Linked DNA regions of Homo sapiens. The protein of the gene in region 7 interacts with the protein of the main gene of each other region in a biochemical or structural test. Each region holds a gene or a part of one and is shown on either strand. Other genes may lie near its edges.

Region 1 (3,305 bases), on a different chromosome or scaffold from region 7:
GCAGAGATGTTTCTCTTCCCCTCCAGTTCGTTCATCTCATCACACAAGTTTGGTTTCTGAAGATTTTTCTTTTTCTCAAATACCATTTACGGAGAACAGAAGTAGAGGATATTTTAGACAGGAAAAACAGCTGATGCAGGGTCCGTCAAATCTAGCTCTTCGTTCTTGAAAACAGTTGAAAATTCAGCACTGAGTTTGAATCCCATGAGAGTGAAGTCACCGTGGGGACTGGGTGCAGGAGGTCGGGGGACAGGAGGTTGTTTCTGTGTGTATGTCTGTGTCTGTGTGTGTAACCAGAGGTACACTGGCATGAGCAACTAAAGATTTCTATAGTTTCTCCAAAAGTGAAGGAGAGAAACCTAATAACTGATGGTCTAGAAAGGTTATCCCTTTTGAAGAAATAACTAGTTCTCTATCAACTTTTTTTGAGAGACCAAACTATTATGGAAAAATACACAGTATTACTTTCCTAACCACTCATCAGAAAGACCAAGCAATACTCACATCAACTGCTTATTTTAATGTCAAATGTTTATTTCTATGCCATAGTTGCCTCAGCACAATTTGTAAAAGAAAGGAATCCAAAAAAATGAATTTTTTTTAGTCAGGATATTTTCTCTGCAGTTATAAGAAAGAAAATAAACACCATGATACCAGAATCACCATTTCTTTCACATCATCACTCTAGTAAGTTGCATCTAAATATTTTCCTTGGTTGCCACTTTTTTTAGGATGGAGAAATATCCACAGGAAAAAATGTCTGAATTCATTAAAATAACCTTGGGATAGTCTTTGCCAGACTGTATCGAGAACATCTTTGTTTGGGTATGCTATATCGCTAATTGCCATATTCTTATTATTTAATATAACAGGCATACTTTATTATATAAAACAAAGTGCACTAAAGATGAACAATGTTACAAACAAACTGAAATTTGGTGTATCTTAAATCTTCGGGTGATGATTAGATAGTAGCTGAAGCGTGGGTATACAAATTTCTTGTTAATACAAATGCAACTCTTTTCTGTGATGAAAATGCACTTAGTAGCCTAGTACTTTTTGCTTTAGCAGATAGATAGGGCATCCAATACAACTGAAACAACCTGATAACAAATTAATTTTATTTTTCAATAAAAAGGAATGCTCTGGTTTTTTAACTGGCTCCTTGAGGAAGCCAGAAGATGGCATCTGCTCTTTAAACAGGCTTCTCTTATCTGATTTGAGACACAAATCCACCAAGATTCTTTCTTACAGTGGAAGTAGGCACCACCCCTCAGATCACGAGGCCCCTAGGAAGAAGCCTGTGGAAATCAGCCTGTGATGTGTGGTGGTGGGCCAGCACCTAGAAGACACATGGTGGTTGTGCACATAAATCCCTTCAGCGGACTCAGTGGAAGGATGAGAATTCTGTAAGTTCATGCACATTTTATTGAGTAGTAATATAAAATGCTTTTTCTTTTTCATTGTTACAAGTGCATGCTTTGATTGCCAACATGTCAGAAGTCAAATTACAAAGGCAAGGCTTTAGGCTGTAGTGAATTACTTGGGCACTTATACAATTGTTAAAAAATATGAATGGACTTTTGTTGTTGTTGTTTTCAGAATGAACCAGTTGTAACCCGTAACTGATATACAAAGGGAAAAAAGTGAAAAAAGTACATATTTTGTGGCACATGACAGAACAGAACAAAATAACTAAACTGTTATGACATTAACAGTTGCCATGCATTTAGAGTTTCACATGTAACTACAAACTTATTATAATTTCACAAGGTTTGCTAAACATGCTAACCATCTACATGTGCATTGACAAGCTTATGTTAAAAACTTTAAAGAATACTCTCCCCTTTAGATTTTTTCAAAGCTTTTTTTTGATTACAAAATTTCAAAGGCATTAAGCATTTTAGAGAATATAAAGTACGCCAGTATACATACATTTCCAGTATATGTCAGACCACTAAGCGCATTACAGTCCCATACAGGCCGATACAGCCATTTTTTTTTTCTTAAAAAACATGCATAGGCAGATTTTTTTTTTTTTTACAGAATATAGATGCTTTATCACTGTACTTAATATGGTGTCTTGTTCACTATACTTAAAAATGCACCACTCATAAATATTTAATTCAGCAAGCCACAACCAAGACTTGATTTTATCAACAAAAACCCCTAAATATAAACGGCAAAAAAGATAGATATAATTATTCCAGTTTTTTTAAAACTTAAAAGATATTCCATTGCCGAATTAAGAAGAAGATAAGTGTTATATGGAAAGAAGGGCATTCAAGCACACTAAAGAAACCTGAGGTAAGCATAATCTGTACAAAATTAAACTGTCCTTTTTGGCATTTTAACAAATTTGCAACGTTCTTTTTTTTCTTTTTCTGTTTTTTTTTTTTTTTAAGACTGCCTAATTCAGTTTATAGCCATTGTCTGACAAGAGTAGCAAAACATTATCAATAAATAGTCCTTAGTTTGTACATCATTTTGTTAAAAATGTTTGATGTCATCCATTTTTAGTGCTGCGACTGTAAACGTACAATAGAGTAAGAAATTAGACAAAGTTTTCATGTCCAGTAACAGAATAAAAGGCCTTTCATTAACCTATCTAGAAGTCCCCAATGCAGTAGGAAAACATGTTCATTCCCCTAACATTGCAGTATATACTAGCATTAGCTTTCTTTTTAAAATTTTTTTTCTCTATAAGCATTTTTAAAAGGCATACCCAAAAGAGGTGTTTAATCACCATCCCCACCAAAATATAGTTTATTATCTCTCTCCCTCTTTTTTAATGATAGTGTAAACTGAATCCAATTCCTGGCCCCCAGAGCAAATAAGCTACTGTCAGAGGCAAGAACATCCAACTGCTGATATGCAGCAATCCCCATCATGCCCCGCAGCTCAAAAAAAAAAAAAAAAAAAAAAAAAAAAAGTGAACAGGAAGTGGTCACTGAATATTGCTGCTATTACTGCCATTGCTGTCCGTGCCGTTAGTCTCTGAGGTGAGAGCCTTGTTGATGGAGTTAAGGTTGGCGTCAGAGGGCATGGCATCTCTGCGAGGCGGCATCCTCTCATTAATTCGGTCTAAGCCCTTGGCTTCCTCGAAGCTAGTGATCTTATGTTGTGGTGAAAATCCTTTGATAGCTAAACAGAAAATCATTAAAAAAAGAAAACCAGGATTATCCAAAGGAAAACAAAGGGCACAGCTGTTGCAGCAGGTGATGTTAGAGATTTCTCAGTGAGAGGGAATCCTTCAGTGAAGAACAAAGTGACGGGACCTGCACACCACACAACAGACTCCTTAC
Region 2 (3,500 bases), on a different chromosome or scaffold from region 7:
TAATAAGTATTCTTCATATAGAGGAGCTCAAGCTAGAACTGCCTGAGAAGCCTCAGGGAAAAGGCAAGGTGTAGGGTAAACATTTTTGAGTCTATGGTATGGATATGTGGAGAGCAAGGAGGGCATTAGGCAGAGAGCATCAACACACAAAAAGGAAAGACATGTAAGAGATAATAAGGCAATGGGTTTAGCTGGAAAATTTAGCAAGAGAAGAATTATGTGAGGGGAAGCTAGAAAGCTATGCTGGGGTCTAGGTGGTGAAGGATGTTACACAAAAGGTTAAGAATTTTTTTTTTTTTTTTGAGACAGAGTCTTGCTTGGTCACCCAGGCTGGAGTGCAATGGCACAATCTCAGCTCACCACAACCTCTGCTTCCCGGGTTCAAGCGATTCTCCTGCCTCAGCCTCCCGAGTAGCTGGGACTACAGGCTCCCTCCACCATGCCCAGCTAATTTTTGTATTTTTGGTAGAGATGGGGTTTCACAATGTTGGTCAGGCTGGTCTTGAACTCCCAACCTCAGGTGATCTGCCCGCCTTGGCGTCCCAAAGTGCTGGGAGCCACAGTGCTCGGCCAAACTTTGGGAGACGGAGGCAGAAGAATCGCTTGAACCCGGGAGGCAGAGGTTGAAGTGAGCCGAGATCGCGCCACTGCACTCCAGCCTGGGCAACAAGAGCAAGACTCTGTCTTAAAAAAAAAAAAAAAAAGAAATTTAAACTTTATCCTGTAGATACCCGGGACTCTTGGAAGGTGCTTGAGTAGAATGGAAGGTACTTGAGTAGAGTAATAATACAGTCAAAGGGGTGTTTTATAGTACCATTAGGAGATATTACAGGAGAGAAACTGGAGGCAGGGATTCCACAAAGGAAGCCACTGCAGCAGGGAAGATGAGAAGAGACAGAGGTTCAGACTCAGAGGTTAGTGGTGCGAAAGATAAAGACACATAGGCACCCTTTTAAAAACAGAATGCTTTTTCTGAGCCGCAATCTCACTCTGTCACTTAGGCTGGAGTGCAGTTGTGCTATCTGGGCTCACTGCAACGTTTGCCTCCCAGGTTCAAGTGATCGTTCTGCCATAGCCTCCCGAGTAGCTGGGATTACAGGCGCCCACCACCATGCCCAGCTAATTTTTTGTATTTTTAGCAGAGACAGGGTTTCACCATGTTGTCCAGGCTGGTCTCGAACTCCTGACCTCAAGTGATCCACCGCCTCAGACTCCCAAAGTGCAAAAATGCTTACGGATTAAAGTTTAGCGTGAGGAAATAAAACATAATAAATTAAACACATCATGCTGGGCGTGTTGGCTCACGCCTATAATCCCAGCACTTTGGGAGGCTGAGGCAGGTGGATCACCTGAGGTCAGGAGTTCGAGACCAGCATGGCCAACATGGTGAAACCCTGTCTCTACTAAAAATACAAAAATTAGCTGGGTGTGGTGGTGTGTGCTTGTAATCCCAGCTACTCGGGAGGCTGAGGCAGGAGAATCGCTTGAACCTGGGAGGCGGAGGTTGCAGTGAGCCGAGATGGCACCACTGTACTCCAGCCTGGGTGACAGAGTGAGACTCCATCACACACACACACAAAGAACATTTTTGGGCCGGGCACGGTGGCTCACGCCTGTAATCCCAGCACTTTGGGAGGCTGAGGCGGGCAGATCACGAGGTCATGAGATTGAGACCATCCTGGCTAAGACGGTGAAACCCCATCTCTACTAAAAATACAAAAAATTAGTCGAGCATGATGGTGGGCGCCTGTAGTTCCAGCTACTCGGGAGGGTGAGGCAGGATAATGGCGTGAACCTGGGAGGCAGAGCTTGCAGTGAGCCGAGATCACACCACTGCACTCCAGCCTGGGTGACAGAGCAAGACTCCATTTAAAAAAAAAAAAAAAAAAAGAACATTTTAGCAATTCCAGGTTCAAAATTCTAGTCTTTAGCAATGTAGGCCGCTAGCAAAGTAGCTATCCCTCTTTGGTAGGCTCATATTTCAGAGTGGCAAGGTAAGGTGTTTGCCAAAAGAAAGTTATTTAAGGATTGGTACGCAACACGATCTTAAAAAAAAAAGTTATTTAAGGAAGACAGAAGGATAAACTAACGGAATAGACAAACAGGGAAAGTAGATCTGTTTGAATACGGAAAACATAAACTGTCTCAATCTTTTTTTGTTTTGAAGTATAAACCTTTGATACAACTCAATATAAATAAAAAAAATTGAGAGTTCCTCTGAAGATTAAAGTATCACAGCAAAGGTATTTCCAGGCTTAGGAGCAATTCTCTCAAACAGGAATCATTTAAATTCTTTTTAATAGGGCAAATTAAATAATTAACACTAAACTTCTATCTGAATATATATTTGTTTCTATAGCTGGGCACAGTGGTGTGCCTGTAGTCCCTGGGCAACCTAGTGAGACTCCATCTGAAATAAAAAAACAGGAACCAAAAAAAAGGAAGAAAAGAGAATTGTATTTACAGAAATATGTCAGAGATTATTGAAAACCACATATATTTAAGAATTTAATTTTAGAAATTCTAGAATTTTCTAAGAACTTCTAAATAGAAAAATTAGAGCAGTAGTAGCACATGGGTAGCCAAAGTATTCTTTGAAGTTGGCATAAGTGGTACAGAAAAAGAGGGCAGTAGATAATCATTTATTCATTTAAGCAGCAATTTTTTTTGGTGCCCTCTTCTATGTGGCATGCCCTGTTTTAAATCCAAGGATACAGCAGTAAATTTGTGTTCACATTCTAAAGGGGTCAAAAAAAAGATGTCAAAACATATCAGATGGTTACAGTGCTAAGAAGAAAAAGCGGGGAAAGAGGAAACAGAGGTGTTACTTTACATAGGTAAAATACTACACCATGATCATGCCTAATGAACTAATGAACATTTTCTGTTAGCACGACCCTGTAAACAGATACTCAATGCTTAAAGCAGTTAGTGAGCCACATGGAAATAAGAGCGTTCTAGGCAGAGGGAACAGCAAGTGCCAGTGCTCTGAGCCATGAGCCTGCTGGCACATTTTACAAACCATAAGGAAGTCAATATGGCTGGATTGCAGACCAGCAGAAGTTCAGTGATAGGACATGAGCTCACAGAGGCTGTAGGAGCCAGACCACACAGAGGTGTGCAGTCTGTGATAAGGACTAAGGATCTTGTTCTTGGTAAGATGGGAAGTCATTCTGAAAAGGAAGAGGATTATCCGGCTTACATCTTAACAGAATCAGTCTGGCTGAAAACAGAGCTTTAAGAAGTGAAGGGCACAAGTAGAAAGACTCGCCGGAAGGCAAGTGCTTGATTGGGGCTCCAGATGGCAGTGGCTTGGGTGAAAAGGATAGTAAAAGAGGTGGTGAGATATATTTAGAAGGTAGAGAAAACTGTCCCCATTGGCTTCTTTAACATTAAAATAATTTAAGATATAATTCATACATCATAAAATTCACCATCAAAAAAGGTACGTAGGCCGGGCACAGTGGCTCACACCTGTAATCCCAGCACTTTGGGAGGCC
Region 3 (3,500 bases), on a different chromosome or scaffold from region 7:
TTCGAGAACACAGCTCAAGAGACACTAGCGGTGGACTTGCTGGGGGCCGGCTGAGCACGCATCTCCCCTGACTCCGCCAGTGGGACAGAGCACCATGCCAGCCTCTGCTGCCTGGATGGCAGGCCTATGCCATTGAACCCTGCCTTCAGTAAGGGATGGCTGGCTGCTGGCCGGGTCACGTGCTGGCCACATCTGTCTGCCCGCCCCAGCCCCAGGGCCCACCTGCAGCACGCCGAAGGTGCACTGATAGCCCATGCGGACCAGGCAGCGGAGGGTGAGCTTCAGGACCATGGAGCGCTTGAAGGAGACAAAGTTCCTGACATTCTCCAGGAGGAAGAACCGGGGCCGGTAGTAGTCGCAGTAGCTGTAGGGGGCAGGAGAGACTGCAGGAGTCACCTCCACAGACAGAGGGAAGAAACGACCCACTGTGCCGGAAGCCCCTCACGAATGTTATCAAAGTCTCTCCCTGGTGAGAGCTGAGCTGTGAGCTTCCGGGGGGCAGAGGCCTCAGTGCAGGGCGAAAATGACCACTGCTGACATGCGGCACAGCCCCGGGCCGTCTGGCAACACTGGGGGGCTTCTACCCGTTTACCTGAGGAAGGAAACCACCAGAGAGTTTTTGAACTTGGAGTAGGTGCGCGAATTGAAGCGGTTCATGCCGCTGAAGCCCTGGCAGGGCGGCCCGCCGCACAGCATCTCCACGTCTCCCTTCTGGGGCAGCCGCTGGCCGCGGGAGTTGGTGGTCTCCCCAGCCATGACCAGCTTCAGCAGGATGTTGCAGTCCTCTGTGAACACTGTGGAGCCGGGGTTGTTCAGCCGGAACGCCTGGGCCGCAGGGTCCCACATCTCGATGGCCCACAGCGTGTCAGAGATGCCTGGCAGATCAAGCACGAAGCCATGCTTTCAACTCTCCAGAAGATTTTTTTTTTTTTTTGAGATGGAGTCTCGCTCTGTCACCCAGGCTGGAGTGCAGTGGTGTGATCTTGGCTCACTGCAAGCTCTGCCTCCCAGGTTCAAGCGATTCTCCCACCTCAGCCTCCTGAGTAGCTGGGACTACAGGCACACACCACCACGCCCAGCTAATTTTTGTATTCTTATTAGAGACGGGGTTTCACCATGTTGGCCAGGATGGTCTCAAACTCCTGACCTCATGATCCACCCACCTCGGCCTCCCAAAGTGCTGGGATTACAGGCGTGCGCCACCGTGCCTGGCCTCGGAAGGAGATTCTTGAGTCAGGAAGGTGACCGGGGTTGGAAGTCGTTTCAGGTAGCACCTGCCCGGTCTGGGCTCACCAGGTATTCAGAGATGGAGCCTACGGGCGCTCACCTGCTTGGTGGAATCCCTCCGACAACCCCCCGCAGCCAGAAAACACATCCAGGGTCCGCAGCTTGGGCAGCTTGATCTCTATCTCTGGCTCGCTCGGCTCACAGGCTTGGGACTTGGGCTTGCCCTTCCCTGGGGGAGAGAGGCCAGAGGCTAAACCCGATCCTCAGAGTCCAAGTCCACCTTGCTCTCAAGCGCCTTGTTAACTCAGGCGGCCTCGCTGTCCCAGAGTCAGTAACACCAGAGGTGGTTTTACACTGAGGGATTCACAGGCAGCCTCCAAGTTACAGAAGAATAACTTGAAAAGAAACTCATACAATGACGTACCTTTTCCCTTGCCCTTCCCTTTGTTTCCAGGGCTACGGGCATGGTTGGGAGGATCTTCAAAGCTTTTGCTCTTTGCATTATAGGCCTGAAAAGGAGAGAACTGCAATCGTTTGGGAGAGAAACGCACTGTCCCCTCTCTAACGCAGACTAGTAAGAAGGCAATTTGATAGTCACTTAATTTCTCCCTCAGTGGGGCCATGACCAATTAGCCACCAATAAGAGTAGTTTGACTTTGCTACAATAGAAACTTAAAACAATCCATTTTATTAATACTAACATTTGATCTGGCTGACACTGAAATGCCTATTACAAGCACTTGAGAGTACCTTCTAGAACAGGAAAAAGTGCTATGCAGAATCTGCTGTCCAATTGGGCTACCTCATCCATGCCTGGGAGAACGTGGATGTATCGTTTTAAGGTAACAACACGGAAAGGCCAAGCCCCAACAATTTACAAGTCATGAGCTTGATCAGCTGACTCGTGGGCCCTCTCCATAACGAGGGCCACCCGCACAGGCATGTGGGCTGGGCCTGGACGTAGGCGCCTGGCCCAAGGGACCCAGGAGCAGGGGCACCTTCTCCAACTCATACTAAGACACCAGTCAGGCTGGTGGAAGCTGCCTCATGGTCCTCAACGTTCAGTTGCACCAAGACACTAAAACGTTAGGTTCTCTAATGACGTACTTTTTAAAAACCAGGAGTGTTAAACTCCGGGACCACTTGAATCTCATACAACTTGTGCTCTGGAGAACCCTGCTCAGACCCCCGTAAAGCTCCTGCAGAACAGCTTCACGTCAGCCAACCACCCACTTCTTACAAAAGCTGAAACCCTGCAGCCAAGCCGCCTTGTGTATAACCCGACATCAGACTCCTTCTGGCCAACTTTGACCCCGAAGCCTTCCCTCTAGCAAGCAGGGGCACCACCTCGAGGAAGTAGAAGCGGTTGGGGCCGCCCATGGAGTACACCTGGACGCACTCGGGCAGGTCCTCCCCATACTCCACGGTGCAGCGGCCCTGCACAGCCTTGAAGTCCACCACGGCCTCCTCGTCGCTCCAGTAGAGCAGGTTGATGTCTGCGTGGTAGCTCGCTGGAGTGGACTTGTGGGTGTTCTCAGGCCTGCGAGCGGGAGAGGCCTCGTTAGGAGCTCTCCTTTGTGGTGAGCTTATGCTGAATTAAACAGTACCATGTTCCTGGGGTGCTCAGGGAACTGCAGGGTAAAGACCCCCTAGTTCGAGAACCGCAGGGTAAAGACCCCCTCAGTTAGGGAACTGCAGGGTAAAGATATCTCCTCCCCACACTGGGGAACTGCAAGGTAGACTCCCCCCCATTTAGGGAACTGCAGGGTAAAGACCCCCCCTAGTTAGGGAACCACAGGGTAAAGATCCCCCAAGTTAGGGAATCGCAGGGTAAAGACCCCTCCCAGTAAGGGAATCACAGGGTAAAGATATCCCCTCCTCACATTAGGGAACTGCAAGGTAGATTCCCCCACAATTAGGGAACCGCCAGGTAATGACCCCCGACCCAGTTGGGAACCGCAGGGTAAAGACCCCCCAGTTATGGAACCGCAGGGTAAAGACCTCCCCAGTTAGGGAGTCATAGGGTAAAGACCCCCCTACTTAGGGAACCGCAGGTAAAGATAACCCCTCCCCAAATGAGGGAACTGCAAGGTAGATTCGCCCCCAATTAGGGAACCACAGGGTAGAGACCCCCCAACCATTAGGTCAGCTTGGCTGCTTGCTCTGCACGCCTGGCCCTGCCCTGCTGTGTCCGCCTGCCGGTAGCAGCCTCTCGAGTGTGTTTCTCTCACCTGTACCACTCACAGCCCTTGTTTTATTTCCTGTTATTACAA
Region 4 (3,933 bases), on a different chromosome or scaffold from region 7:
TGGTGTTGGGAAAACTGGCTAGCCATATGCAGAAAACTGAAACTGGACCCCTTCCTTACACCTGAAATAAAAATTAACTCAAGATGGATTAAAGACTTAAACGTAAGACCTAAAACCATAAAAACCCTAGAAGAAAACCTAGGCAATACCATTCAGGACATAGGCATGGGCAAAGACTTCATGACTAGAACACCAAAAGCAATGGCAACAAAAGCCTAAATTGACAAATGGTATCTAATTAAATGAAAGAGCTTCTGCACAGCAAAAGAAACTATCATCAGAGTGAACAGGCAACCTACAGAATGGGAGAAACATTTTGCAATCTATCCATCTGACAAAGGGCTAATATCCAAAATCTACAAAGAACTTAAACAAATTTACAAGAAAAAAACAAACAGCCCCATCAAAAAGTAGGTGAAGGATATGAACAGACACTTCTCAAAAGAAGACATTTATGTGGCCAACAAACCTATGAAAAGAAGCTCATCATCACTGGTCATTAGAGAAATGCAAATCAAAACCACAATGAGATACCATCTCACACCAGTTAGAATGGTGATCATTAAAAAGTCAGGAAATAACAGATGCTGGAGATGATGTGGAGAAATAAGAATGCTTTTACAATGTTGGTGGGAGTGTAAATTAGTTCAACCGTTGTGGAAGACAGTGTGGCAACTCCTCAAGAATCTAGAATGAGAAATACCATTTGACCTGGCAATCCCATTACTGGGTATATACCCAGAGGATTATAAATTATCCTACTGTAAAGACACATGCACACATATGTTTATTGCAGCACTGTTCACAATAGCAAAGACTTGGAACCAACCCAAATGTCCATCAATGATAGACTGGATAAAGAAAATATGGCACATATATGCCATGGAATACTATGCAGGCATAAAAAAGATGTGTTCATGTCCTTTGCAGGGATATGGATGAAGCTGGAAACCATCATTCTCAGCAAACTAACACAGGAACAGAAAACCAAACACCACATGTTCTTACTCATAAGTGGGAGGTGAACAATGAGAACACATGGACACAGGGAGGGGAACATCACACATCGGGGCCTGTCAGGGCTTGGGGGACTAGGGGAGGGATAGCATTAGGAGAAATACCTAATGTAGATGATGGATTGATGGGTGCAGCAAACCACCATGGCACGTATATACCTATGTAACAAACCTGCACGTTCTGCATATGTATCCCAGAACATGTATAATAAAAAAAAAAAGAAAAGGACTTAGTGCCCCTGAATTGTATACTTAAAAACAGAGAGAGAGGTGGGAGGAAGGGAGAAGAGTATTCTAGGAGGAAGAGACTATGTGCAAAAAGTATTGGAAGCAGGAATGAATAAGACAACTCAGGAAAAAACAGCAAGTGCAGCTCAGTCTGGCCAGACACGTGGTGCCTTGAGGAGGGAGGCTGAGCGATGAGGCCGGACAGGGAGGAAGGATCCCGACTGCAAAGGGCCTTGAATGTCTTGCTAAAGACCTTGGACTTTCTTTGGGCACTAGGTATACATGGGAGGATTTTGTGCAGATGAGTGACTTTGTGTTTTAGGAGGATCTGTCTCCCAGCAGATTGGAAGGTGACTGGAAAGGGTGAGAATGGAGACAGGAAATGCCATGGAGACTGCAAAGTCTGCGCAAGAGATAGGGAGAACCTGGCTGTGAGGATAAGGCAGAATTAAAGATTTGGGAGATGTTTCTAAGGTAACCACTTCCAGACCTGGTGACTGGATGACAAGAGAGAGATCTGAGAGGCTGACAGGAAAGTGCCCCAAGGCCAGATGGGGAATTCTCACAATTCTGGACTACTGCCACCCTCCCTTTCTCAAGAAGAAGAGCAGTGCTAGCAGGTTCCCCTTCCCAGCTCCTCCCTCCCCTCTGCGCCCTGGCAGTCAGGGCCCTATAAACCCCATTTCCAGTCTGGATCCTGGGAGAACAAGTTTACCCTGCCCATAATCTGCAGAAGATCCCACTCGGCATTGGAGCTTTCTTTCCATAGTGAGTGAAGCCAAGGCTACAGTTCTTTGCACTCCACCTCTGTGGGGTCCTCTGAGAGCTGGAGCTGAAGTTCCCCCCAGACCAGGAACTACCACACATCCAAGTGGAGCCCTATCTGCCTTCAGTCTGGGAATGCCTCGAAAGTCCCTGTAACCTTAGGGTTCCCTGATGTGGAAGCCTTTCATCCAGATCCCCGCCCGATTTCCTCCCCTCATAACAGGACATCATCCTGCCCCAAACAGGCCCTAGGTAAAGCTACACTTCTTACCCGGTAGGGCTGAATGGCCTCGTCCAGGAACCCCACGGTGTGCGCCTGGTGCGTGGGACCCTCCCTGCAGAACACACAGAGGAACTCGGCATCGTTCTCGCAGAAGAAGTAGATCTTCTCGCCGTGCTCCTCGCAGTAAGTTTCTCCCAGCGGGCCCAGGGGCACAGGGGCCATGGGAGTCTCTGCCTGCTCCTCCTCTTGGCAGAGCGGGCAGAGCAGGATCTTGCCCGAGGATTGGGCCCCCATCTGGGAGAGCGCGGGGAGGCAGAGCCGGCAGAAGGTGTGTCCACAGGGAATGGTCACCGCATCCTCCAGCGGCCCCGCACAGAGGGTACAGGCAGGCAGCTCATGGACCACCTTCAGGGACGGGGTTGCGGGCATCACGGTGCCTTCCCCAGCCCGTCCACTCCGGTCTCCTCAGCCCACGCGAGTTCCCTTTCCCTGAAATCGAGTCACACTTACATGAATCGCAGAGGGAAACGGCTGCAAGGCTAAGAGACAGAGAGAGAGAAAGAGAGAGAGAGGCAAGAATGCCAGCACAGGGAAGCCACCTGGCTCCGCCTCTTGTGTTCCCTAGAACCCTGGCCACCACCTATCAGCGGAGTGGGTCCAAATTCCAGGGCGTCTCGAATTACCCAGAATTTCCCAGTGGCGGCCAAGTAAGCCAGTTCTTTACTCCTGGCTCCTTCTGGTCCCTAGGGTGGAGAACAGAGCACACCATGAGGTCACAGGGGGATGGGTTTCCTGGAATCTGTAGACCACAGTGGCTGGGGAGAACTGGGGAGCAGAAGCTTCCTGTCAGATTGAGCAGGTGGGAGCCATAAACTTCTGGCTCTGAGGCGTGCCCACAGCATCAAAGTCCAGGCTGGAGTGAGAGGTGTGGACTTCGGGAGATTCTGCCGGAAGTGTGTGGGCGGGACGCTGTTTCGACACTGCAGGTAGGGTGTAAGGATTGCTCATCGGGTCCCCTCTTCTGCTCTCCTTTCCTCCCTCACCACATCTGCCCATGGTGGCCCCTCCTACGGTCCCAAATCCCCCACCACCTGGCACAACAGTCCCCTTTGGGGTTCGGGTAACACTGGACTATTTTATTTATTTATTTATTTATTTATTTATTTATTTATTTATTTATTTTTACTGTAGCGGGGAGAAGGCAAGAAACCATAATGCAAATGATTTATGTTGATACACATTAGAAAACGATTAGTCAGATAATCAGTTTCAACCACATTTATCTAGGGTTTAGTATTTTTATATTACTACATTCAATTTTAATAACCCTCTAGGCAAACATTATTACCTTCATTTTACAGAGAAAGAAATGTAAACTGACTTTCCAAATGTAAAGTGACTTTCCAAAGGTCACAAAGCTAGAAAGTATCACGTTAAGGACGATCCCAGTCTCCTGGCTTAAAGCCCTACGCTCCTCCCACACCTCATGCCAAGACCAAGATCTGCAGCCACGGTCCTTCACCCATGCACACATCTGTGGATAAAACCAGGCCTTCCCCCATTCTCCCACTGGGTGATCAGCCTAGCCCCTTGTGGTTGCTCCCTTTTTACTCTAATCACTTTATTACCTCCCCTTCCCATCCAATCTCTGCTCTTCCTGCCACGAGTGCAGCCCAGGAACTAGTTTGTCCAATACAGGAG
Region 5 (3,500 bases), on a different chromosome or scaffold from region 7:
TGTCCGAGCATGCTCTGTGGAGTTGATGCGTGGCCCTGGAGTGTCCGGTGCTTCAGTGACCCGAGCTGCTGTGTGCGTGGCCTCCGTCCGCCCAGTCATTCTGGCCTGTCTGTGACTGCTCAGGGGGTTTGGGCAGAGTGGGTGGAAATGTCTTGCTGTACGAGATCCAGGCTTAGGTCCCTTCCCCTGTTATTTGTGTGGTGCTGGGGATGGCGGGGGTAGGGGGACGAGGGAGAAGCTTTAAGGGTCAAGCCTGAGCATCTGGGACACGAGCTGGGAGCTAAGCCTCATCGGAAGAAGCCGGGTAGGCTGGCCTGGGAAGGTTCTTGGAGGCAGCAGCCCTCTAGAGTGTGAGGAAAATGTTGGGATTGCAGGTGCGCTCCCCTGGGGCCCCAGGGCCCCTGACTCTGAAGGAGGTGGAGGAGCTGGAGCAGCTGACCCAGCAGCTAATGCAGGACATGGAGCATCCTCAGAGGCAGAATGTGGCTGTCAACGGTGAGCCCACCCCACCGGGACACCCCCACCCTGCCCCCACATCACGGTGGGGGCCAGGGCTGTGGCTCCACTCCCTATCTGAGCTGGCTGATCCCTCGCAGCTCTACATACTTCCTTCTATTTACTGCTGTCTTCTCTGGCCTTCCCAGAACTCTGCGGCCGATGCCATCAACCCCTGGCCCGGGCGCAGCCAGCCGTCCGCGCTCTAGGGCAGCTGTTCCACATCGCCTGCTTCACCTGCCACCAGTGTGCGCAGCAGCTCCAGGGCCAGCAGTTCTACAGTCTGGAGGGGGCGCCGTACTGCGAGGGCTGTTACACTGTGAGTCGGGCTGTGCTGGGCTGTGCTGGGCTGTGCTGGGCAGTCGGGCCCTGGAAGCTTGCTGTGGGGTGCCGGTTCCCTGCCAACCTCCTCCTGCTGCCTCCTCAGGACACCCTGGAGAAGTGTAACACCTGCGGGGAGCCCATCACTGACCGCATGCTGAGGGCCACGGGCAAGGCCTATCACCCGCACTGCTTCACCTGTGTGGTCTGCGCCCGCCCCCTGGAGGGCACCTCCTTCATCGTGGACCAGGCCAACCGGCCCCACTGTGTCCCCGACTACCACAAGTGAGGACCTGCCACCTGCCTTCTGGGTTCCCGGCGTGCTTGGTCTGGTAGCCCGGCTGCTTGCTACCCTAGCCTCAGGACAGCCCCAAACCCCTGGTGGTGTTTTCTGGTCCCATGTCCTGTCTGTAAACAGCAGGGACCAAGTCATCGGGATGTAGCTGTCCAGGGGCCTTAGGCCTGGGCATCGAGTCCTGCTGCTGTCTGGTCCCTCCCTCGCCCTTGATCACTGAAGCTTATTGTGGGTGTATGTCAGCATTTCGTGAAGTGTGCTGGAGTGACTTCATCTCACACACAGGCTGGGTTCTAAAAGTTCTTTTGGAGATCAGCTGTTTGGATTTCTGGTTTCTCCCCAGAAATAGTGTTTAGAAGGTGGCTACTTTTTCAGGCTGACCCGCAGAACCTCAGTGCAGCTGTGGGAACAGTGCAGAATCTGACCCCCACCTCTGACAGAGTGTTTGGGTAAACACTTTCAGGATTCCATCTGGGGTGGCCACAACTTCACATCCCTCCACAGTGCCAGACAGTCAGGGCAGAGGCAACGTGCATGGGGGTGGGAGGATTGGGGGAAGGTGAGGGTCAGGGACCCAGGATGGGATGGGAGGGGTACCTCAGGGCTGGCTTTCTGCAGGAGCTGCAGTGTGAATGGGACAGTAAGGGTCGAGTGGGAGAGAACACCGTGGCAGGTGTGTGGGAGGCTCCCTTGCTTTGGGAGAGTGACTGGTGAGGCAGGAAATTCCCTTTGATGAGGGCCAGTCATGGTGTCTCACTCTTAGGCCCTTCTGGTGAGCTTCCTTCACCTGGAGATGCAGGGCAGAGAAGTCTGCTTCCTTGCTGCCCAACCTGGCTTATGCGTGCGCACACCGGGGATGAAAGCCCTGGCTAACTCGGCTGGCCCTTTCTGCCCCTTCCAGGCAGTACGCCCCGAGGTGCTCCGTCTGCTCTGAGCCCATCATGCCTGAGCCTGGCCGAGATGAGACTGTGCGAGTGGTCGCCCTGGACAAGAACTTCCACATGAAGTGTTACAAGTGTGAGGTCAGCCATCCCTCTGGACTCCTTGGGCAGGTTCTGACCAGGAGGTGGCGGGAGATGCTGCTTACTAACTGGGAGGTGGAAAGCACCAGCATTCAGGAAACAGGGCTGTGATTTTGAGGGTGGCTCATGGTGGCACCCCATCTGTCCTGCCAGAATGCTTCCTGCCACTGCAGGAAATGGGGCTGTGGGGCTTCTGAGGTCACTTTGAGTCATGGATAAGCCAAGAAATGGGACAAGCCAATAGGAGAGAAGAAGGGCATGGTGTTTTACCGTGGTAGGGGATGGGGAAACAGGAGCTGAGAGAAGAGGTCTTCGAATGGAGGTGAGCCAACCTCTATTTTATTAGGGTGGTGGTGGGCAGGGGAGCAAGCACCTTGGGAGCAGCTCTACCCACTGCTTGCCCTCTTGCAGGAAGGTCCTAGTGGGTGACTGGAAGTAGGATAGGGATGGGGAGTTGGGTGTGGCTGGAAAAAGCGATGACACCAGCTCTGAGCCATGAAGCATCTTTCTAATTCCAAGATGGAGCTGGATGGGGTGGGGTAGGGTGGAGCAGAGCAGGGGCCTTCCGGTCCAGTGCCCCTCACCCTTCCTTCTTCCCAGGACTGCGGGAAGCCCCTGTCGATTGAGGCAGATGACAATGGCTGCTTCCCCCTGGACGGTCACGTGCTCTGTCGGAAGTGCCACACTGCTAGAGCCCAGACCTGAGTGAGGACAGGCCCTCTTCAGACCGCAGTCCATGCCCCATTGTGGACCACCCACACTGAGACCACCTGCCCCCACCTCAGTTATTGTTTTGATGTCTAGCCCCTCCCATTTCCAACCCCTCCCTAGCATCCCAGGTGCCCTGACCCAGGACCCAACATGGTCTAGGGATGCAGGATCCCCGCCCTGGGGTCTGGTCCTCGCCCATCCTGCAGGGATTGCCCACCGTCTTCCAGACACCCCACCTGAGGGGGGCACCAGGTTTAGTGCTGCTGCTTTCACTGCTGCACCCGCGCCCTCGGCCGGCCCCCCGAGCAGCCTTTGTACTCTGCTTGCGGAGGGCTGGGAGACCCTCCAGGACATTCCCACCCTCCCCCATGCTGCCAAGTTGTAGCTATAGCTACAAATAAAAAAAAACCTTGTTTTCCAGAATTCTCAGTAGTCAGCTCTTTTGTAGTGCCTGCAGCCCTCATGGGTGGGATGGAGGCAGAAAATCAGTTCCTGTTTATTTACAAAAATATATATATGTGTATGTATGTATATATATTAACCCCTCAGCTCCCTCCCATGATCATCCTTTTACTTCTACCCCCACCTCCCTTTTAAAACAAAGAGGTTTTCTGGGGTGCAGAGCAGGGTTCTCCTGAAAGTGGGCAGAAGCAGCA
Region 6 (3,500 bases), on a different chromosome or scaffold from region 7:
CCTCCCAAAGTATTGGGATTACAGGCGTGAGCCACTGTGCCTGGCTGACCTAAGACAAATGTTAATCAAATCAAGGTGTGGGCCTCATTTGGATCTTGACAAAAACCATTTGTGAGAGCTGAGGAAATGTGAAGACTGACAGGATATTTGATGGTATTAAGAAATCGGTAAGTTTTTTTAGGTGTGAAAACAGTAGTGTAATGATGTTGAACGACAAAAAGAGGCCTTATATTTACAAATCTATATGGATATATGTTTAGGTAAAATGATATGAGGTCTGGGATTTGCTTTAAAATAACCTAGTAGGTGTGTGTGCTGGGAGATGTACAGATGGGTCAAGATGGACTGTGTACTGATAATGGCTGGAGCTGTGTATTGGGTACATGGGGGCTCCCTATTCTACTCTTTTGATTATGCTTGCAAGTTTTCATGATAAAATGTTAAATAAAAGGCAAAATCAGAGAGACTAAACATTCTACTGTGTAGGCAAACATATAAGATAAAACCAGACAAAGAGCAACGAAATAAGCAAATAAATGACAATGCAATGCTTTTGAATTTTATATAAACAGCATAACGTATGTTTTAAAAAAGTGCTTTCTGGTCATTTCTTTTTTTGTTTTCTTTTTTTAAACAGTACATGTCTGTTAAATGGTCATTTCATTAGCTGATTAAAAAAAAAAGAATACTAAATCCCATGTGCAGGGTGGTGGCCACCTTTGTGGATGAAACGGGCAGAATACACATTGAAAATGAGTTACAGCTGGGCGCGGTGGCTCACAGCTGTAATCCCAGCACTTTGGGAGGCCAAGGTGGGTGGATCAACTAAGGTCAGGAGTTAGAGACCAGCCTGGCCAACACAGGGAAACCCCGTCTCTACTAAAAATACAAAAATTAGCCGGGCGTGGTGGCAGGTGCCTGTAATCCCAGCTACTCGGGAGGCTGAGGCAGGAGAATTGCTTTAACCCTGGAGACAGAGGTTGCAGTGAGCCCAGATCGTGATATTGCGCTCCAGCCTGGGCGACAGAATGAGATTCCGTCTCCCCCCACAAAAAAAAGGAGTTATAGACAGCATGGGGCAATGACTTAGTGGATATTCAGAAGATAAAAAGGACAGAAAGCAGAAAAACAGGGAACAAGGAGGACTGGACAGTGAGCCCCAGCCCTGGGGGAGCACCGGCGGGGAGGGCAGACCAGCTCTGTCTCACCTTGCTGTCGGAGTCCACGCGCTCATCCACAGAGTAGGAATCATAGTAGAGACTGAAGTCATCACCCACCACCGTCTCCCACTCCTCCAGGGACCCGGGGTCCCCTTTCGTCAGGGTCACTTCTCCTGAACGCCGGGCAGAACCTAACTCCTCTGACTAGAAAAAGATCAGAAAAATTGAGGCCACTGACACCCTGCGCATTTCTACTGAGGATGGGATGCAGCCCCACCTCTGACCCTCCCTCAGAGCAGCCCCCGAGGGGTAGAGGCTCTGCCTCTGCTGCTTACCAGGCCACCTCCTGAGTTCAGCTTCCTCCTTTTGGCCAGATCTGGAAGAAGAGAGAGAATGGTGTGGGGCCTATCACCGAAACCTTCAGAACAGACCACATCAAGCCACCGGGGGTGGGGGATGGGACTGACCTGAGGTCACCTTTCCCAGTGAGTGGACATCATCACTCATGCGGAAATGCTGTATTTCAGGGGGCCGCTTCTCAGGGACCGGGGGCTGTGGGCCGAGAGGGAGCACACTGAGGGTCAGAGAGCACCTACAGTTTTGCCTGGGTTAGCCTGGAGCCCCAGGCGGGGGTGGGGTAGTGAGCCACACCTCCAAATGCCATGTGAGGCTCCAGTAGCCACAAACTGGCAACCACGGGTGCTATTTCCTCAGAGGAAGAGTGTCAAGCACACTAACACTCACTCATCTCTGCAACCATGCAGAGCAGGCCCTTTTCCATTTTACAGATGAGAAAACAAAGCTTAATAAAGTTAAAAGACCTTTTATATGTGGCCATATACACAGCAGGACTGTTTACAACAGCTGAGGTGCGGAAGCAACTCAAGTGCCACTGACAGATGAATGGATAAGCAAAATGTGGCATTTATACACAATGGAATAACATTCAGCCATAAAAAGGAAAGATATACTTTTTTTAAGAGATAAGGTCTCATTCTGTTACCCAGGATGGAGTGCAGTGGCATGACTATGGCTCACTTCAGCCTCGAACTGGACTCAAGCCATTCTCCTGCCTCAGCTTCCTGGGAAGCTGGGATTACAGGCACATGTCACAATGCCTAACTAATGTCTTCTTAATTTTTTTTTTTGGTAGAGAAGAGGTCTTGCCATGTTGCCCAGGCTGGTCTTGAACTCCTGGTGTCAAGTGATCCTCCCCAGAAAGTACGGGATTACAGGCGTGAGTCACTGGGCCTGGCCTTTGAAACATTCTTTTAAACTTCTTTTAGAGATGGGGTCTTGGTATGCTGCCCAGGTGAAAGGAAAGAAATTCTGACATGGTACAACATAGATGAACCTTGAGGACATTATGCTAAGTGAAATAAGCCAGTCACAAAAGGATAAATACTGTATGATTACACTTAGATAAAGTACTTACTCAAATTTATAGAGAAAGAAAGGACAGTGGTCCTTGCCAGGGGCTAGGGGGTGGAGGGAATGGAGAGTTATGTTTTAATGGGTACAGAGTTTCAGTTTTACAAGATGAGTTATGGTGACTGATGATTGCACATGATGAAAGTATTTAATACCATTAAATTATATACTTAAAAATGTTTTTTATTTTATTTTTAAATTTTTAGATGGAGTCTCACTCTGTTGCCCAAGCTGGAGTGCAGTGGCGCGATCTCAGTTCACTGCAGCCTCTACCTCCCAGGTTCAAGCGTTTCTCTCACCTCTGCCTCCTGAGTAGCTGGAACTACAGGCACATGCCACCACGCCCGGCTAATTTTTGTTTTGTTTTTTTTTTTGAGACAGAGTTTTGCTCTTGTTGTCCAGGCTGGAGTGCAATGGCAGGATCTCGGCTAACTACAACCTCTGCCTCCTGGATTCAAGCGATTCTCCTGCCTCAGCCTCCCAAGTAGCGGACTGTTACAGGCATGTACCACCATGCCCGGCTAATTTTGTATTTTTAATAGAGATGGGGTTTCACCATGTTCGTCCGGCTGGTCTCGAACTCCTGACCTCAGGTGATCCACCTGCCTTGGCCTCCCAAAGTGCTGGGATTACATGCGTGAGGCACCCCGCCTGGCCTAATTTTTGTATTTTTAGTAGAGACAGGGTTTCACTATGTTGGCCAGGCTGGTCTCAAACTCCTGACCTCAGGTGATCCTCCCGCCTCGGCCTCCAAAGTGCTGAGATTACAGGCGTGAGCCACTGCGCCTGGCCTAAAATTGTTTTTTAGATGGTAAATTTTACGTGACACTAGTCCCCTCTTATCCAGTTCATCAGCAGTGATGGTGGCATATTGTTAGAATTGTGCTATTTTTTTTGAGTCTCGCTCTG
Region 7 (3,500 bases):
CCCTGGCTGGGGTGGTGGGGGAAGACAAGGGAAGGAGATACCAGCCAGCAGCCCTAGTTGATACACTTCATGCATATCAGCTCGCCGAATCCTCCCCACAAGTCTCTGAGGTAGTCAATGTCATATCCCGATATCCAGAGAGGCTAAGGGACCTGCCCAAGGTCATCTGGACACATGGTGGTAGGGAGGGAAGGGATTAAGGTCAACCTGGAGGCAGCCCACCCTCGCCACTCAAGGGCAGTCCAGGCTTCTCTCATCCTTCAAGGTCCATCTCGGCACCTCATCCTCGGGACGCTGGCCCTGGCTCCAGGCTGAACCCAGGGCTTCCATAGCACCTGGGACTGGGCTGTGCTGTTGGCGGGTGGTGTCCCCCACCCCCACTGGATGGAAGCTCCTGGAAGGTAGTGAAGGAGCCAGTTATTCTGATGCAGGGGTCTCCCACAGCACTGCACACCCCAGGCCTCAGGACTGGCTGAAGAGAACAGACCAGGATCCTGGAGACCCTTGAGCTTTGCTTCTTAACATGTGGTCTCCTGGCCGGGCGCGGTGACTCACGCCTGTAATCCCAGCACTTTGGGAGGCTGAGGCTGGTGGATCACCTGAGGTCAGGAGTTTGAGACCAGCCTGGCCAACATGGTGAAATGCCGTCTCTACTGAAAATACAAAAATTAGCTGGGCATGATGGCAGGCACCTGTGATCCCAGCTACTCGGAAGGCTGAGGCACGAGAATTGCTTGAACCTTGGAGGCGGAGGTCGCAGTGAGCCAAGATCACGCCATTGCACTGCATCCTGGGCAACAGACTGAGACTCTGTTTAAAAAAAAGTGGACTCCAGACTACCTGTGTCTGACTCAACTGGGCTCCTTGTTAGAATGCGGGTTCTGGGGCCTTCCAGAAAATCTACAAAATCAGGGCTGGGGTTCTGGAATATGCATTTTGGAAAAAAGCTCTCCAGGTAAGTCTGAAGCAGGCTTCAAGTCTGAGAACGGGTGGTCTAGAGCAGAAGCTGGGAATCTATGGTCCATGGACCAAATCCAGCCCACAGCCGGCTGCTAAGAACGGGTTCCACATTCTTTAATGCTTGGCAGGGGGCGGTGGAGGGGGGGAAGAAGAACCAAAAGAGGAATAATATTTCATGACACATGAAATTTCTCTGAAATTCAAATTTCAGCCTCCAGAAATAAAGTTTTATTGGAACACAGCCACACCCACTCAATTACCTCTTATCTGTGGCTGCTTTCATGGCAGAACTGCAGAACTGAGCTGCTGCCACAGAGGCCATATGGCCACAAAGCCTGAGATACCTCCTACCTGGCCCTTTACAGAAAAAACTTAGTGACCCTTGTTTGCCAAAATATTCTGACGGCATACTCCTATTGGTTAAATGTATTTTAGCACAATCTTCCTGAATTATGTGTATTTTATAAGTTACATGGAAGTTATCACTTGACAAATATAGAATGTATATTGTAAAACTTGCACCAAAGAATGAATTGTGAAAGTATGAGATGGCCAGGTGCGGTGGCTCACACCTTTAATCCCAGCACTTTGGGAGGTCGAGGTTGGCAGATTGCTTGAAGTCAGGAGTTCAAGACTAGCCTGGCCAACACAGTGAAACCCTGTCTCTACTGAAAATACAAAACTTAATCAGGCATGGTGGTGGGCACCTGTAATCCCAGCTACTTGGGAAGCCGAGTCATGAGAATCACTTGAACCCAGGAGACGGAGATTGCAGTGAGCTGAGATCGAGCCACTGTACTCCAGCCTGGGAGACAGAGTGAGTCCATCTCAAAACAAATGAATGAATGAATGAATGAATGAATGAATGAGATGAAAAAGAACCAGAACCAGGAGTTAGAGTTTTCTTCCTGTAGGAACATGCTGCCTGTCCCACACCTTGATGACCCCTAGTGGGCTCTATCCTCTTCACTTTTCTTTCTTTTTTTTTTTTGAGATGGAGTCTCGCTCTGTCGCCCAGGCTGGAGTGCAGTGACACAGTCTCGGCTTACTGCACCCTCTGCCTCCCGGGTTCAAGTGATGCTCCTGCCTCAGCCTCCTGAGTAGCTGGGATTATAGGCAACTGCCACCACGCCCGGCTAATTTTTGTATTTTTAGTAGAGACAGGCTTTTACCATGTTGGCCAGGCTGGTCTTGAACTTCTTGACCTTGTGATCTGCCCACCTCGGCCTCCCAAAGTGCTGGGATTACAGCCGTGAGCCACCGTGCCCAGCCTCCTCTTCACTTTCCAGAGAGGAAACTGGTGGGGACGGGTACAACCATAGAAAGGTGTGAGGGTTCAGGGTTTGAGTGCTCCATGAGGATGGGGGAGGAAGCGGGACATAGAGTGAAGAGAGTGACAGCTCTCCCCCACCCTCAGGGGAAACTCAGAAAGCAGGACACCAGGACAAGGAGAGAAACTGGTCCTTCCCAGACGGGCTCAGGCCTGCAGGAATTTCCTCCAGGCCCTGGCAGGCACCTAGCTGGAAGCCAACTTCACTTCCTGTTCCCTAGAATGCTGGCCTGCCTTTTCCTGATCCGGGAAAATGGGGTGGGAGTAGTGGGGTGGGAAGAGGAGGAGAGGCAAAACCTGCTGTTTCCTGGAACGCCCCTGCCCCATCAGGGCTGTCCCAGCCTGGGCAGTCCCCTTTGGGCATCCCCTCCGCACAACGTCTCTGCTGCCTCCTCTCCCCCTTGGCACTGGCTGTGCACAAAAGGCAAGAGCAAGCACGTGGCCAGGCAGGGCTTACACGTTAACAGCTGGAAACACCTGCATGGTTGCTGCTCCTGCTGGCTGAACAGCCAATAGTTCCTGCAGCCCGGGCTGGGGGCACAGGGAGGGCAGTGGTAAGGGCCTGGACAGAGTCTGGGGGGAGTCCAGTCTGGACGCAGAGGGCAGTTTACTTAGGGGTTTGGGTCAGGATCAGTCCCTCCTTTCCCGGCCCCCTCCCTTCAGGCCAGAGCAAGGACCGGCACCCACGTGGCAGCACAGGCTAAGCCTGTTCCTGAGGTGAGGCAGCCAACCCTGGCCAGGCTGAAAATCCAACCGACCCCAGCATCCGCTGGGAGGGGCACTCCAGGTGATGTTCTCACAGACCCAGCGCAGAAGGTGAGTCTCCCGAGCCCCACTCTCTTAGTGATCCCTGTCCACTGGTGTTGGTGGCGGGGAGGGCACAAGGGAAGGGGACACCCCTCCTGAGGCCTCCAGGCTCACGAGGCACCTGCCCTTCCAACTTTTGTTCTGAGGTGGGAAAGGTCAGCTTCCCTTGTTTCCTTTCTGCTAAGGAAAAGAGCCTGCCCCTGAGAACCTGTGACCAGGGAGGGAAGTGCAGACACGGAATGGACAGGGGCCTGCCCTGGGCCCCGAAGGTGCCAGCAGGGGGCCTGCAGGGACAGGTGTCCTTGATGTTGGGGGCCCAGATGAATGTGTGACAGCTTCCCTGGACATGACGCTATCTGCATTAGCGATGGGGTGACAGGGAGCCTTTTCCTCTGGGAGGAGA

The links.
Region 1: of the proteins of LASP1 (region 7) and PPP3CA, one has a biochemical effect on the other in vitro, tested with the Homo sapiens proteins (one study listed by IntAct).
Region 2: the proteins of LASP1 (region 7) and COPS5 form a complex in vitro, tested with the Homo sapiens proteins (one study listed by BioGRID).
Region 3: the proteins of LASP1 (region 7) and DNMT1 form a complex in vitro, tested with the Homo sapiens proteins (one study listed by BioGRID).
Region 4: the proteins of LASP1 (region 7) and TRIM15 form a complex in vitro, tested with the Homo sapiens proteins (one study listed by BioGRID).
Region 5: the proteins of LASP1 (region 7) and ZYX form a complex in vitro, tested with the Homo sapiens proteins (one study listed by BioGRID).
Region 6: the proteins of LASP1 (region 7) and EHMT2 form a complex in vitro, tested with the Homo sapiens proteins (one study listed by BioGRID).

The regions. Positions count from the first base shown.
Region 1 is NC_000004.12:101,022,918-101,026,222, forward strand, and holds the end of PPP3CA (protein phosphatase 3 catalytic subunit alpha), read right to left. Parts: intron 3,145-3,305; coding exon 2,948-3,144; 3' UTR 501-2,947; downstream 1-500. UniProt on the Homo sapiens protein: Calcium-dependent, calmodulin-stimulated protein phosphatase which plays an essential role in the transduction of intracellular Ca(2+)-mediated signals. Many of the substrates contain a PxIxIT motif and/or a LxVP motif.
Region 2 is NC_000008.11:67,052,134-67,055,633, forward strand, and holds part of COPS5 (COP9 signalosome complex subunit 5), read right to left. Parts: intron 1-3,500. UniProt on the Homo sapiens protein: Probable protease subunit of the COP9 signalosome complex (CSN), a complex involved in various cellular and developmental processes.
Region 3 is NC_000019.10:10,139,454-10,142,953, forward strand, and holds part of DNMT1 (DNA (cytosine-5)-methyltransferase 1), read right to left. Parts: intron 2,768-3,500; coding exon 2,575-2,767; intron 1,737-2,574; coding exon 1,652-1,736; intron 1,457-1,651; coding exon 1,328-1,456; intron 876-1,327; coding exon 593-875; intron 365-592; coding exon 223-364; intron 1-222. UniProt on the Homo sapiens protein: Methylates CpG residues. Preferentially methylates hemimethylated DNA. Associates with DNA replication sites in S phase maintaining the methylation pattern in the newly synthesized strand, that is essential for epigenetic inheritance.
Region 4 is NC_000006.12:30,162,413-30,166,345, reverse strand, and holds the start of TRIM15 (E3 ubiquitin-protein ligase TRIM15), read right to left. Parts: upstream 2,801-3,933; 5' UTR 2,745-2,800; coding exon of another isoform or gene 2,743-2,744; 5' UTR 2,662-2,742; coding exon 2,281-2,661; intron 1-2,280.
Region 5 is NC_000007.14:143,387,845-143,391,344, forward strand, and holds the end of ZYX (zyxin), read left to right. Parts: intron 1-374; coding exon 375-495; intron 496-644; coding exon 645-814; intron 815-922; coding exon 923-1,101; intron 1,102-2,012; coding exon 2,013-2,133; intron 2,134-2,733; coding exon 2,734-2,838; 3' UTR 2,839-3,267; downstream 3,268-3,500. UniProt on the Homo sapiens protein: Adhesion plaque protein. Binds alpha-actinin and the CRP protein. Important for targeting TES and ENA/VASP family members to focal adhesions and for the formation of actin-rich structures.
Region 6 is NC_000006.12:31,891,199-31,894,698, forward strand, and holds part of EHMT2 (histone-lysine N-methyltransferase EHMT2), read right to left. Parts: intron 2,465-3,500; exon of another isoform or gene 2,164-2,464; intron 1,713-2,163; coding exon 1,628-1,712; intron 1,537-1,627; coding exon 1,496-1,536; intron 1,365-1,495; coding exon 1,209-1,364; intron 1-1,208. UniProt on the Homo sapiens protein: Histone methyltransferase that specifically mono- and dimethylates 'Lys-9' of histone H3 (H3K9me1 and H3K9me2, respectively) in euchromatin.
Region 7 is NC_000017.11:38,908,058-38,911,557, reverse strand, and holds part of LASP1 (LIM and SH3 domain protein 1), read right to left. Parts: intron 1-3,500. UniProt on the Homo sapiens protein: Plays an important role in the regulation of dynamic actin-based, cytoskeletal activities.